Linked DNA regions of Homo sapiens. The protein of the gene in region 2 purifies or fractionates together with the protein of the main gene of each other region. This does not show direct contact. Each region holds a gene or a part of one and is shown on either strand. Other genes may lie near its edges.

What was found. The genes of interacting proteins can lie anywhere in the genome.
Region 1: the proteins of RFX3 (region 2) and PABPC5 purify together in Homo sapiens (affinity purification with mass spectrometry; 2 studies listed by BioGRID and IntAct, with this or other methods). This does not show direct contact.

The regions. Positions count from the first base shown.
Region 1 is NC_000023.11:91,430,492-91,437,901, reverse strand, and holds the start of PABPC5 (polyadenylate-binding protein 5), read right to left. Parts: upstream 3,064-7,410; 5' UTR 3,008-3,063; intron 3,000-3,007; exon of another isoform or gene 2,903-2,999; intron 2,468-2,902; 5' UTR 2,325-2,467; coding exon 1,176-2,324; 3' UTR 1-1,175. UniProt on the Homo sapiens protein: Binds the poly(A) tail of mRNA. May be involved in cytoplasmic regulatory processes of mRNA metabolism. Can probably bind to cytoplasmic RNA sequences other than poly(A) in vivo.
Region 2 is NC_000009.12:3,516,000-3,523,094, forward strand, and holds part of RFX3 (transcription factor RFX3), read right to left. Parts: intron 1-7,095. UniProt on the Homo sapiens protein: Transcription factor required for ciliogenesis and islet cell differentiation during endocrine pancreas development. Essential for the differentiation of nodal monocilia and left-right asymmetry specification during embryogenesis.

The sequences.
Region 1 (7,410 bases), on a different chromosome or scaffold from region 2:
TACAGGCTAATAAATGTAACGGCAATATTGAACAAACCTTTTTTTTTTTTAATTTTCAAGCAGCCAAGACATAAAGAAAACCATATTGGTTTCACAGTTCTCATATAATGGCTGGAGGCATATGACTTAATCCAAGAGACAACCTATTCCTTACCTTTGAAACACCTGTGAATATTATCAAAAGGACACACACAATAATTTACAAGAGATAACAAGTTTAATAGAAGGTGTTCTTCGAAGAAGTTTTTCAACATCATTCTGTGGAGTACTGCCTTTTATATTGACAGTTGATAAAACCCGAAGGTAAAATATTAAATTATTTATAGGTAAAGGCAATTCAGCGCAGTTATTCATCTTTCTTGTTAATTTAACATGATCCAAGTATATGTACTAAGGAATTTAGAAAAATGAATGGTAGGAGTGGTACTGAAAGTATCCTCACATACCAAATCTCTTAGGAAAGGTTTTTAAGATGCAATTCCTACTTTAAATAGCCACTGCCTAAAGTGTTAATTTTCTCAGTGACTAATTGAGAAAACACCAATATGCTTACTTCTTTGGGCAAGAAGTTAATACGACCACTCCCAACATTTAGTCAAAAGTACTATCAAATCTGTAGCATGTTCACAACATATTAAAAAATGAAACAAGAATACAAATAAAGAAAATAAAATACATTTCACATTTTTTGAAAAAACATTCATTTTTGCATAATAATTTTAAGTGAAATTATGCAGATGTTAATTGCATCACATATGTTTTCCCCTGCTGTACTGACTTCTCAAAAACAAGTTAGAACTTTTCACTGTGATAGATTCAGAAGAACCATGTTGACATTTTCATGAAAAAAAATAGAGTATTACTGAAATAAGAAGGGAAATATACTCAATCAATTGCCTCACCTTGACTGTTCAGGAAAAAAAAGTGGAGGAATACACTTTATTCTACAGATTTCTAAGGATATTACATCAAAAAAAGTACAAAATGACAATTTTACAGTTAGAAATTATGTTCTATTCTAAAATGAATAAAGTTTTCTAGTTTTGCATTTTTTTTTCAAAAGAATTCACTTCAAAAAAAAACTTGTGAATTAGCATAAAATAACCCCTTATCACAAAGGAGCCCAAACTAAGGAGGCACCAACTAAGGCTGAAACAAACTGAGCATTCTTATTCTCAGCACCTGCGCCTGGCCTGGCCCAGGGTGACATGCAGGGGCTTGGAGCCCACTATGCGGCCATTCATCTCATCCACTGCTTTGGTAGCCTCTTCAAAAGAGGAAAAGCAGACCACACCAAATCCTTTGCCTTGCCCCACTTCCATCATCACTTTGGCCCGACTAATTGACCCAAAGGAAGAAAATTCCTCCTTCAGTTTTTCATCATTGATTGTCTCATCCAAGTTCTTAATATAGATAGGCACCCCTGGGGGCCGACTTTTTTCTTTTAACCTCAGCCGTTCAAATCTCCGCCTCAACTCAGCCAGGCGTTCAATTTTCTTCTGTGCTCGCCCTACATAGAGGACTTTTCCATCGATGGACTTTCCATGCAAGTCTAGCACAGCCTTTTGGGCAGCCTCGTGTGTCTCATATCTCACAAATCCAAAGCCTTTAGATTTCCCACTGGCATCTCTTATTACTTTAACACTCTCAGTTGGCCCATATTCACAGAAAAGTTCCTTCAGTTTTTCGTCATCTATGTCGTCTCCAATGTTTTTAACGAAAACATTGGTGAAAGTTGCTCTATCCCTGGTTCTGACCTCAGCCGCCCGCTCTTCTGGGAATTTGAATCTGCCAACATACACCTGGCGGTTGTTGAGCCGCACTCCATTCATGTGCCAGATGGCTCTATTGGCAGCGGCCAGGCTGTCAAAGTGAACATAGGCATAACCCTTAGAGCCGTTGTCATCGCATACGACTTTGCAGGACAGAATGTTCCCAAAAGCAGAAAATAAGTAAAACAGGGCCCTATTGTCTATGGATTTGTCCAGGTTTTTGATGAATATATTTCCCACTCCAGACTTTCTTAAGCGGTCATCTGGCTGAGACCACATAAGGCGGAATGGTTTTCCATTAATCAAATCAAAATTCATGGTGTTCAAGGCCCACTCTGCATCCGCGGGAAAGCGGAAGTTAACATACCCATAGCCCAGGGGGCTGCGGGTCACCGGATCACGGCAGATTCGGGTGAATCGCAGAGGGCCAGCAGGCCTGAACTTCTTATAGAGCATGTCCTCGGTGACATCTGGGTCCAAGTCACCCACGTACAGAGCGGCCTTGAGATACTTCTTTTTCTTGCCAGCAGGATTAGGCTCCCCGCTCCCCATCTCTCTGAGCACTGGGAGGAGGTTCTCTTTGAAGAGAAAAAAGGCTGCTTTCTCTAAGCTATGGGCCAAACAGCTGTTCACGAACAGAAAAAGCCAAGGCAGGCAAAAGGAAGCTAAAAGCAGACTCAGAATCACTGTCGAGGCTGAGAAAATGAAGTTCAGAAACAGCTGGTCAGCAGGCTCAGAACAAACACATCAGACAAAAAGGCGCCCCAAATACGAATCTATTCTCCCTGCGGGGACTTAAAATTGTCACCCGTTCAGATTTAAAATCAGTTTCAAAAGCCAGTACCAGAAACGTAATTTTCCTGTCCCCGTGAAATTGTGAGAAGCCACCAAGCAGCTGGCTGGTTCCCCACAACTAGCATTGCAGACAGAGGCCTCCCGACCCGCTTTCTGCATAAATATAGGCCTAGAGCTCCTGTTGGTTTAAAATGATATCAACAAGGGCAGGGACCGAGCGCGTATTCCTCCGCCGGCTGCCTGGCCAGTCTCGGGCTGGCTAGCCTTTCGCTAAGGCCTCTCCGCACTCAGCGTCTGCGAAAGGGTACACCAGACACTTGGTGCGATAAGACCGGCAGGCAGGCTGCAGGCAGCGGATAGGACACAGAGACAGACAGACAGACACACGCGCGGGGGATCGAAGACCGCCCAGATACCCAAGATGCCCACTGGGTACGGACCGAGTGAGGCGCGGTGATTTCAGCAGCCTGAGGCTCGAGGCAGGTCCGGAGAGACTGACTGGCAAACGCGCAGTGAGTGGGTCAGCTCTGACGCGAGGCGGGTCTGGCCAGATGCGGGGCGGAGTCAGCGAAGAAGGGCAGATGCGCGGCGGGCGGTCCCAGCGCAGACCGATGGGCTGGGGTTTCTCTCCGCAGGACAGTCCAACGGAGGGACCAAGAGCCAGTAGCAGTGATAGGGAGGGGGGACAGGCGGGGCGCGAGAAACCCGGAACCGTGCTAAGTAACTTCCCGCTTCCTCTGTACCAAGATTTAAAAAAAAAGAGAGAGAGAGAAGGGGGGAGAGAGAGAGAGAGAGAGAGAGAGAGAGAGAAGGGGAGAGAATGAGAGAGAGAGAGAGAAGGAGAGAAAGAAAAATCTAAGATGGCTTTTAGATGTTTCTTATATTTTAAATGTTATTTATTATTTAAAACACTATATTTAAGCCGAACATCTAAAAATCACATAAGAAGATGACGACCTGGGCAAAAATAATAAGTTTTAAAAAACTAATTATCAAAATCATTTAAGCTTAGGGAAAAGGATAGGTTGCATACTTTCCTGAGTGCATTGGAAAGTCAAAGTTTACAAATGTCCTGGCCTCCCAATCCAGTGCTAAAGGATCACAGGGTCAAGTAGAACACAGGACCATGTTGCCTTTGGCCTTTAGCCTTACTTCATTAATCTCCAACATAATGGTAATATTTTCCTCAGGTGGTAGGCAAAGAGATCTTTTCTCTGATCCCATAATACTAAGGTTTTAATGATTGGAGAGCCATATAATGGCTTTTGATGGTGTTTAGTGCCACAAAACGTTGAAACTGTTGAGCTGCCGCGAGAATTACAGTTACAAAATCTCAGTTAAAGAGATAAAAGCCACAGAATCAATACAAAATATGTAATTAATATTTACAGATGAAATAAACATGTTAAGATATATGCACTTTACACAATTATGAATTTCATCATGAGTTGTCAACTTGAAACCCTTGAAGGAAACAGTGCCATCAGACTGGACTCAACTCAGCAGTTTCTCAACAATATCTCTCTTCAGAGTATTTGAGAAACCCTTTTGGAGAGAAATTTTGACCGTGTTTTCAGAAATTCACTGATATCTAGCATGCGCAAACAACACTTCAAGAGGCTCCTTCCACAATTCCTACCCCTCCAGAAAAATCCAAACAAAACATCTATCACTACTCTTAGGCTGGAAAAGATCCTGGGAAAAAAAGATTGCAAGAGAAGGACATTACCTTAGTGGGTGTTTTCCTAATAAGTCCTCAGAATAAGAGGCTAAATTAACGTATTCATTCACTTTATACATTTTATAGTGTCTATTAGACTGTAGAGTTGACATTAAACCTCATTATTTACTCAAAAACTTAGTAATTTTCTTTACTATTTTTTTTTTTTGCTTGCTTTCTAGTGTTCTTGGTTAACTAAGACATGGAGATTTTGAGAAAAGGCAAATATGAACAATGATATTATAGACTAATAAATGGGTTTTACAGTGTGACCAGAGTGACCAACATGTGGAAACACTTGTGAACATCTGCCTAGTTTATTGCATTTTGAATATATTTTTATAAACATATTTTCTTTTATGCGTAATTAACAATGGGTTAGAATTCTAGTCTGTTTTGGACTTTTCTCATTTTTAAAACTGCCTTATTGAAAATAGTAAAATAACAACATAAATCCAATTTCCACAATCTCATCATTGATTCAAATCAATATTTTCATCTGTTCCTGTAACCAACTAAATGTTGTCCATATTCAAATTTATTTGTACATATTTTCTCTAAGATTATAGTTAGAATTGATTTGTTATAATACACGTTTTCAAAATAATCACTTCTCTACACTTACCACTTCCATTCAACATAGTACTGGAAACCTTAGGCAGAGCAATTAGGCCAGAGAAGGAAATAAAAGCATCAAAATCAGAAAGAAAAAAGTAAATTAATCTTTGTTTGCAGATGGCATAATCTTATCTGTAGAAAACCCTAAAGTCTAATATTTTTTAAATCTCCATACTATCCAAACTGATCAATATAATCCCTATCAAAAGCCCAATGGCATTTTTTTTTTACAGAAATAGAAAAAACAACCTAAAATTCATTTGTAGTCACAAAAAAACCCTGAATAACCAAAGCAATCTGAGAACGAAGAAAAAAGCTGGAGACACCATTCTTCCTGATTTCAAAACATGTTACAAAGCTACAGTAATTACAACACTGTAGCACTGTCATAAAAAACAGACATATAGGCCAATGAGGCAGAATAAAGAGCCCAGAAATAAACCCACACATGTACAGTTAAGTGGTCTTTGACAAAGGTGCCAAGAAAACACAATAAAGAAAGGATTGTCTCTTTCACAAATAGTGTTAAAAACTTGGATATACGTAAAATTGGATCCTTATCTTACACTGTACACAAAAATCAACTCAAAATACAGACTTTCAACCTGATCCGAAACTATAAAATTTTAGAAGAAAACAGGGTAAGAGCTTCTTGACATTAGTCTTACCAATGACTTCTTGTATATGACACCAAAACACAAGCAAAAAAAAAAAAAAAAGAATATAGAAAAAGAGTACATCAAATTAAAAGGCTTCTGCACAGCAAAATAAACAATCAACAGTGTAAAGGTAGCTTACAGAATGGGAGAAAATTTTTGTAAAACAAGTATTTGATAAGGGGCTATCGTCCCCAAATAAAAGGAACTTTTACAACTTAATGGCAAAAACAAACAAAGAAACAACTTGAATAGTCATCTCTCAAAAGAAGGAATATAAATGGCTAATGGGTAAATGAAAAGATGCTCAACATCATAATCATCATTGGAATGCAAATCAAACCCTTAATGAGATGTCGTCTCACATCTGTAGAGATGGCTATTATAAAAAATCAAAACATAACAAATGTTGGCCAGTATGTGGAAGAATTGGAATCCATTACCTTTGGTGGGAATGTAAAGTGGTACAACTGCTATGGTAAACAGTATGGAGGTTCTTCAAAAACTTAAAAGTAGAAATTCCATATGAAGCAGCAATCCTACTAGGATTGCTAAATCCTTACAAGGTAACATGTAACCTTACTCCTGCAATCTGCCAACATTCATGCTCTCTACCCCTCCCCACACACAACTAATTGAGTTAATATGTATCCAAGTTCTACTGGATAGTAGTCACATATATTTAGGTATATATCCAAAGTAATTGAAATCAGAATCTCAGAGATATTTGCACTCCCGTGTTAATTACAGCATTATTTACCATAGCTAAGTCTTGGAAATGACATAAATGTCCATTGATGGTTGAATGCATAAAGAAAATGTGGTATAAACATACAATGGAATATTATTCAGCCTAAAAAAAAAGAAATCCTGCAGCATGTGGCAACAGGGATGGGATGGAGCTCAAGAACATTATGTGAAGTGAAATAAGCCAATCACGGAAGGGCAAATAGTGCATGATTCCATGTCAATGACATATTTAGAATAGTTAGACTCATGGAAACAGAGAGTAGAGTGGTGGTTGGGAGCGACTGCTGGAGGGGAACTGGGGAATTCAGTGGACATAAAGTTTTGGTTACACAAGATGAACAAGTTCTAGAGAGCTGCTGTACAACATTGTGCCTATATTTAAAAATACTGTATTGTGCTCTTAAAAAGTTTGTTAGAAGGGTTGATCGCATGTTAAGTGTTCTTAGTACAATTTTTTAAAAAAATCATTCAACTGTGAAGAAATATGAGTATTAAAAAACATATAATAAAAATAATATAACAACTTTAAATATATTTTGAGTTAGTTTGGCATCTCCTCAGGGTGATTTTTTATTTTAAAATATTTAATGGACAAAGATCGTATATATTCAAGATGTACAATGTGATGATTTGCTATATGTATGCATTGTATAATGATGACTAAAATCAGATTGATTAACACATCTTAGAGTGCCCTTTTAATTAGATATTATTAGTTTAAAATAAATACTTAGAATAGTACATGTGAATTTAAGCAGTTACTATGTATTCAGAATCCAGTGTATTTAGAGATTTATATATAATTAAGCTATTTTCTGTTATGATACATTGAAACAAGGTAGGCGATCGTTGCCTGCTTAGCAGATAGTCTCAGACAAATTTCTGTTTCTTTGCTAGTGCTTGTTAACTGAACACGTCTCATATAGGGAAAATATATATTTAGCACATTCTCTGATTAGAAATCTTGATTTGTAGTCCTTTCACTTGACCTAGAAGAATAAATAAAAGAATAATAATTTTAAAAGATGTGAACATTATGCTTTATTTTAAATTTTAAAATTGTTGTAAAATACATGTAACAAAATTTACCATCTTGATG
Region 2 (7,095 bases):
GTTCTAAAATCTTGAGAAGTCTACTAACCAAAGTAGTATTAAAGTAAAAAAAAAAATTTTTTTTTTTGAGATGGAGTCTTGCTCTGTTGCCCAGACTGGAGCGCACTGGCGTGATCTCGGCTCACTGCAAGCTCCACCTCCTGTATTCACACCATTCTCTCACCTCAGCCTCCCGAGTAGCTAGGACTACAGGCGCCCGCCACCACGCCCAGCTAATTTTTTGTATTTTTAGTAGAGACGGGGTTTCATCGTGTTAGCCAGGATGGTCTAGATCTCCTGACCTCGTGATCCACCCGCCTCAGCCTCCCAAAGTGCTGGGATTACAGGCATGAGCCACCGCACCCAGCCTAAACTAAAAATTTTTTAAAATTTAAGAAAATGTATACTTCTTAAACAAAAGACTATTTTTCTGCTACCAAAGCTGAATTAAAAGAATGCTTATCCAAGTATAAACAATATTAAGAAAAAGAAAAGCAGTAACTATTACCGATGGAAAAATATGAGACTAGTGTGGAGGATAGCAATGCTTTCCAGACCAGGGACCCCAAAGTAGTCCAAAGGCTCTCGGAGCTTGTCTAGACCTTGACGGGATTTTTAGCTCTTCTTAAAAACCAGTTGAATAGCTTCAATAATTGGGGAAGAAATGTCTTAAAAATGAGATCAACAGAAACCTAAATTAATTTTTATTCTGATCAGAGAGCACACATGCACTAGCTCGCTTTCGCACTCTCTCTCTCTCTCTCTCTCTGTTAAATTGCCTATCCACATACTCGGGAAATTATGTCCTGTTTTAAATATCTCATTGGTGAGCAACAGACAGGAGGAGCCCCAAATGTCAGACACTTGTCTGGCACACACACATAGAGAAGCTGGCTCCGGCAGGAGCTCAAGCTGTGAGACTCAGCTAATTCCTATGTGGGTGAGAAAATGAGGGCACTTGGCCACCACTCTCTACAGAAGCCATTGAAATGGTGGAACCTTCTGAGACTTTGCTATAGGTATGGCCATTATGCTAGCACCAGGCTGTGGGTTTTCTTTCTTTCTTGTTCTTACCAGAAGAAACAATAAGCAAACAACTTGCTAGCCTTTGAGAACATGAGTAAGGGAAATGCCAATTCCTGGCTCCATGTTATTGGCATGTTTCCTTCCCTTTCCCAGTGTCAATCTTGCTACAGAATCATAGATTGGAAAGGGCTTTAGAAATCCCATAGCCCTATTGTTTCATGTTACAGATGGAGAAACTGAGACCTATAGGGTATAAGTGACCAGGCTAAGGTTTTACAGTTAGAAATAGAGTGAGAACCTTTATTTTCTCTTTAACCTCCTTTGGCTAGCATTTTTGAAGTCCTTTATATCTTGGCCTGGTCACTCGCTGTCCTTTCTCCTTTTATCATCTTTCACTGTATCTGTCTCCTCTTACCAACTAACACACTATTATTTTGAGGACAGCTGTCTCACTCTATTAGTTTTCCTAAGCTCAACTCCTATTACCCAATACCTCATTTTTGCCTAAACAGGAATTACCAAGAACCTTCAGAAATCTTGACCAAGCACTCTAAAGCAAAGGCAAGCAGTACTAGCTGGGTATTACTGCTTCTAATAAAAGTGAGAAAGGAGAATCCAGGAATTAAAAGTCAACAACAGCAGGCATCTGTGATTGTGCAAACACAGTGTTTATGGACTACAGATTTAACCCTAAGGTACTTAGCCAGAGGCCAGTACATAGCCAGGACTAAGAAGGGAGCCTTCTGAATCAAAACCACACTCAAATTACATAGTTAGTGGAACAAGGTTATAAATTTGTCCAAGAGGACAGTCAGATGAGTAGAAATTGTAAGATAATAATAGACTATCGGAAATGGTAAGAATAACCATACAGTCACGCACCACATAACATTTCTGTCAACAACAAACCACATCCCATAACAAAATGGAGCTCAAAAATTCCTATAGCCCAGTGACATCATAACCAACTAAACATCTTGACACAATGCATTACCTTTTCTACGTTTAGATATGTTCAGATACACAAATACTTATCTCTGAGTTACAAGTGCCTACAGTATTCAGTCCAATAACATGCTACGCAGGTTTATAGACGAGAACAATATGCTATACTATATAGCATAGGCGTGTAGCAGGCTATACCATCTAGGTGTGTGTTGGGTACACTCTATGATGTTCACACAATGATGAAATCACCTAACTACGTAATTCTCAGAACATATCCATATCATTAAGTAATGTATGACTGCATAACCTGACCATCCAAATCACATTTCCTAAACTTTTCCCAAAAGTTCCTTTTAAATCTGTGTCAAATTCACTGGCGAAAGGAAGCAGAGGAGGTGGCTAAGCTGAGAGTCAGTCTAATTGATATGTTGGGGCTAATTATCTACAAAAATAACGCAAAGGGGGTCATATAACTAAACACTTAACGGGAGTGGGGAGAATGGTGAAATGAGTGACACAGACAAACATCTGTACAATATACAATGCTTTGGCAAAAAAGAAAAGACATATAGTATCAGGTAAATTCTCAACTGAAATATATAAGTCAAATTTCCAGTTTGAGAAAGATTAGGACTGTTTATAGATCACTCTAAAATGAGAAAAGTATTTCATTCTGATGAAAATGTTCAGGAAAAATATAGAAATAAAGGAAATTACTGAATAGCAACTTTAATAATTAAGCAGCCAACTTGAAAATGTTACTTAAACATCTTTAATATCTAATGAAAGGAAGCCACAGGTGATATATTTCCTCTATGATTTCATATTATATATTACACTAAATAATGTTCCAAGGTTACTTTACAACTCAAGATTGGGATTGACAAATCATCCCAAAATTATTTATTGCTGTAGGTACACAAGTAGTAACCTCACACATTTTTCTACCCTTAGTAAAGTAACAATTCTAAGCAACGCATTATAAAAATGTAGAATAATTCTTTGATAAACTCATCTTTACACAACTGACTAGACTATTTATTATTATTAAACTTTACTGACTACATTCAGTATAAAGTTTATAAATAGGGCTCAGACTGTTTTCAAATAATTCATGTATAACGTGAAAATAAAAATATAAGTGGGACAATGAACTGGACAATGGGAGTATAACAGATAATGACATATTACATCATTAGTTCTTAATCTAAAATCCTTTGACCAGGAGAGTTATGCAAACCTAGTAAAAGGAGCCCATTATAAGGCTGCAGAGTAAAACTAAAACATAACTTTGGGCTAGCATTCTATTAATTCAGTGTGATAAGACTGGTTATCAAATGATAATCCAAGCCTGTGATTGGCAGCTTGTCTGTGCCTTATTTTTTAAAGTGGAGGAAAAAGAATAATTATTATTTAATGAGTATAAATTGGTAAGCAAAGTCTTTCAAAACTTTTTGGGCTCATTAAAAAAGGGATGGTCAAAGGATTCTTAGGTAGCAAAAAGATTAGAATAGGTATTTTCTCAGCCTTCCCTAAAAATAAAGCCAACGCGTATTGAACACATATTGTGTCAAATACTGAGCAAAGTACGTTACATAAATTATCTCCTTTAATCCTCACAAAACCCCATAAGGCAGGGAAGATTGATCCTATTTTTCAAATGAGAAAACTGAGGTTAAGTGAAGGTAATAACTTGTCCAAAGTCACACAACTAATGAGATTATCTGAAATCTGACTCCAAAGCCTGTTATTCACCAGTATACTTATTCTATCCATCTATTTAAAGAACAAAACCTATTTATACCTATTTATTGATACTCTAAACACGTTTCCATTTTTAACTGATTTGTTTTCACTAAGAACACTCTGCATTTGATACGAAATAAAAACTACAAATATAAAGATTTTGAAGCAATACAACTTGCTATAAAGTATACTTTCAAAAATCTAGCCTGGGCAATGTAGCAAGACCCTGTCTCTACAAAAAAAAAAAAAATTGAAATGTTTTAAATTTTAAAATGATGGCAACAGCCTGTAGTCCTAGCTACTCAGGAGGCTGTGGCAGGAGGACCACGTGAGCCCAGGAGATTGAGGCTGCAGTGAGCTATGACTATGCCACTGCACTCCAGCCTGAGTGACAGAGCAAAACCCTGTTTCAAAAAAGGAAAAATCTTAGTGGCAAAAACTAACTGGTAAACTGTAGGACTATATTTTTAAAGAAAAATGCCTAACCTATTTTAGCAAGACCAGTATTTAAACATAGTGTTACTTTAATAAATGTTTTGGATTCTTTGAGGCAGTCTAACACACATGAACTACTATGCCTTGTAAGCTTACTTTATAAAAATATCACAATTAACTAATTATAGTAAAATATGGACTAGTACAGATAAATCCATTATCAAGATTAAAAAGTTTATATGCTGTAACTGTATCTTTCTAAGCTTACTTAAGGAAGGTATCACTGTTTCAGTATGTCTTTTAGAGTATATATTGCTGTGAAAAGAGTCGATGATACAAGAAGTAGCCCAAGATTGGATTCAGTATTCTCCTAAAAATCTCTCACTGAACAAATAAAATACAAAAAGCAATATAAGATCACTCCCAGTTTAAAAGTATATGGCACACAGTAGGGCTGGGAACCTAAAAGTTTTCAGATAATAAGCCAAATTAAACAATCAAACTAGCCTATTCCAACAGCATGAAGTACGGATTGCATTCGTTTCTGTTTTTGGTGTTTTGAGACAGGGTCTTGCTCTGTCACCCAGGCTAAAGTGCAGTGGCATGATCATAGCCCACTGTAACCTGAAACTCCTGGGCTAAAAAATTCTCTCACCTCAGTCTCCTGAGTAGCTTGAACTACAGGCACGCACCGGCAAGGCTGGCTAATTTTCTTTTACTTTTTTTTACAGAAATGAAATCTTGCTATGTTGCCCAGGCTGCTCTTGAACTCATAGCCTCAGGTGATCCTTCTGCCTCAGTCCCAAAGTGTTGGGATTATAAATGTGAACCAATACAACCAGCCAGAATTATCTAGATAATGTCAATACTATTTTATTATGAATTAGCCTGATAACCACTATTGCCATTTATTTTTCCAGTGGTTTTTTTAAAGATTATACAATAAAAAGCATATCACTATGCCATGTAAAAGTGTTATAAGAATGGACAATTATTGATATGTGCTAATCATATGAAATTTAAGAAGTATAAAGCCACATATCGCCAAATAGTATGATTCTCAGGGTAACCTAAGTTTTGAAATAAAGATTAAAATATCTACATAAGATAATCAACATATATGCCTATAGGACTAATGCCAGACAGTGCCAAAGATATCAATCTTTATATTGTTATATGTTGCGGTAATATGTATTAGTACACGAAGTTAGGTTCTGATGTAAAACTGCCAATTAAGATAGTATGTTAAACTCCATAAAAATAAGCCTATTATATGCTTCAATGCATATATAATTAAAAATTTTTTTCTTTAAATAAAAGTTCTAGTGAGTTCACATTCTTAGTGATAATAATCTCATGTTGCAAACAGCACAGCACCCTCTGGTGCATCTGTTATAAGAAATATAAAATTCCCACAGAAAAGGACAGAATTGTAGAGTAAAAGTGAACCTTAGAAATCAATAGGTTGATAGTTTTTTTATTTACTGCAGTACATATTTTTGAACATTAATACTTAAAAATATTATCATTTTAAAAGATCACTATAAACTTTATAGCAGTAAATGAAGTCAGGAAATGTCTTAGTTTGAAAATACTTAACCAACAAAAACAACACCTATTTCCAACATATAAAAAATGCTGTCAAAAAATTATTTCAGTAAAGGATGACAAAAGTTAACTTGTCATGTTAACCAAATTTCACTTTATTCAAATTGGCCTTGGGGTTTGACTTGGGTGTGTAAAATGTTCCTGTGTACTTTTTCTGGATTCAAAGGGAATTTACCATTATTTATAAGAATTGATAAGTGTTTTGTGAAAGAATCTGCAGGTTCTACCACTTAAAAATAGAATATTCAGAAATAAAAGTTATGTTAAATTACGAATCTTGAGTAGTTCAAAACTTTTACTTTAAAAAAAAAAAACTTTTCCTAGAAAACTCTAAAAGTAGATTTTACTAACAACAAAAGCAAAGGATGCCACCTGCTTTAGACAGCCCTTTTGTCAACCACTGGAAGTCCCAACACAATGCAGTAAAAAATGAAAGTGACACCTGTTTAAAGCAGCCATCTGTCCCTAACAAGCCAGATTTAGTCAAATCCACTTAATCTTGGATTTCCAAAATATGGGAACACTATGTATCTGTGAATAGAGAGGAATTTAAAACATACTTTGTCATGGCCACTGGGAATATATACCAAAGAGTTAAAGGCAAATTACTCAGTTATGAAAACTGTTTTTAAGGTAACTGAGCTCAAATAGAGGATTTTTAGCCAAAGGTTCAGCATTAAAACAAAATAACCAGGAGCCTCTCAAAAATGTTAAAGTTTACTTCTTCCCTATTCTCATTTCTTGTAACACATTCTCACTATGGATACTAAGAACAAAGTAATATTCCTATTACTGTTCTGGAAAAGTGTGTGTGCGTGTGTGTGTGTGTGTGTGTGTGTGTGTGTGTAACTTTTGCCACACATCTGCTGCTATGCCCACCCATTTAAACACAAACACACACACACACACAGACTTTAAAATCTGAAAACCAAAAATCATTATATTCTGCCTGCTAATTTCTTCAGCTGGAGAATACCAACACAATATCAACTTTCTCAAGAAATGAAAAATGTTACCAAAAAGTAACATACATTATCATTTAAACGACGCATAAAATCCAACTTGCCTTTAAGATTCATTCATTTTTTAATTGCTATTGTTAATGGTAAAAAAATTAACCATAATAAATTGTTTAGGGTAAAATAAACTGTTCCAGGTTAAAGCACAGTAAGCTTATAAACTATAACCTTTTATTTGAGTACCAAAGCAGAGTACAAGACTATTTGAGTACTGGAGGAATAATACAAAAAAAACTAACCATCACTACAACCTTTAATGAAAACATTGTGAAACGATGCAAAACTTCTAGAAATTCATTAGTTTGCCATATATGTGTATATGTATGATGCCTAC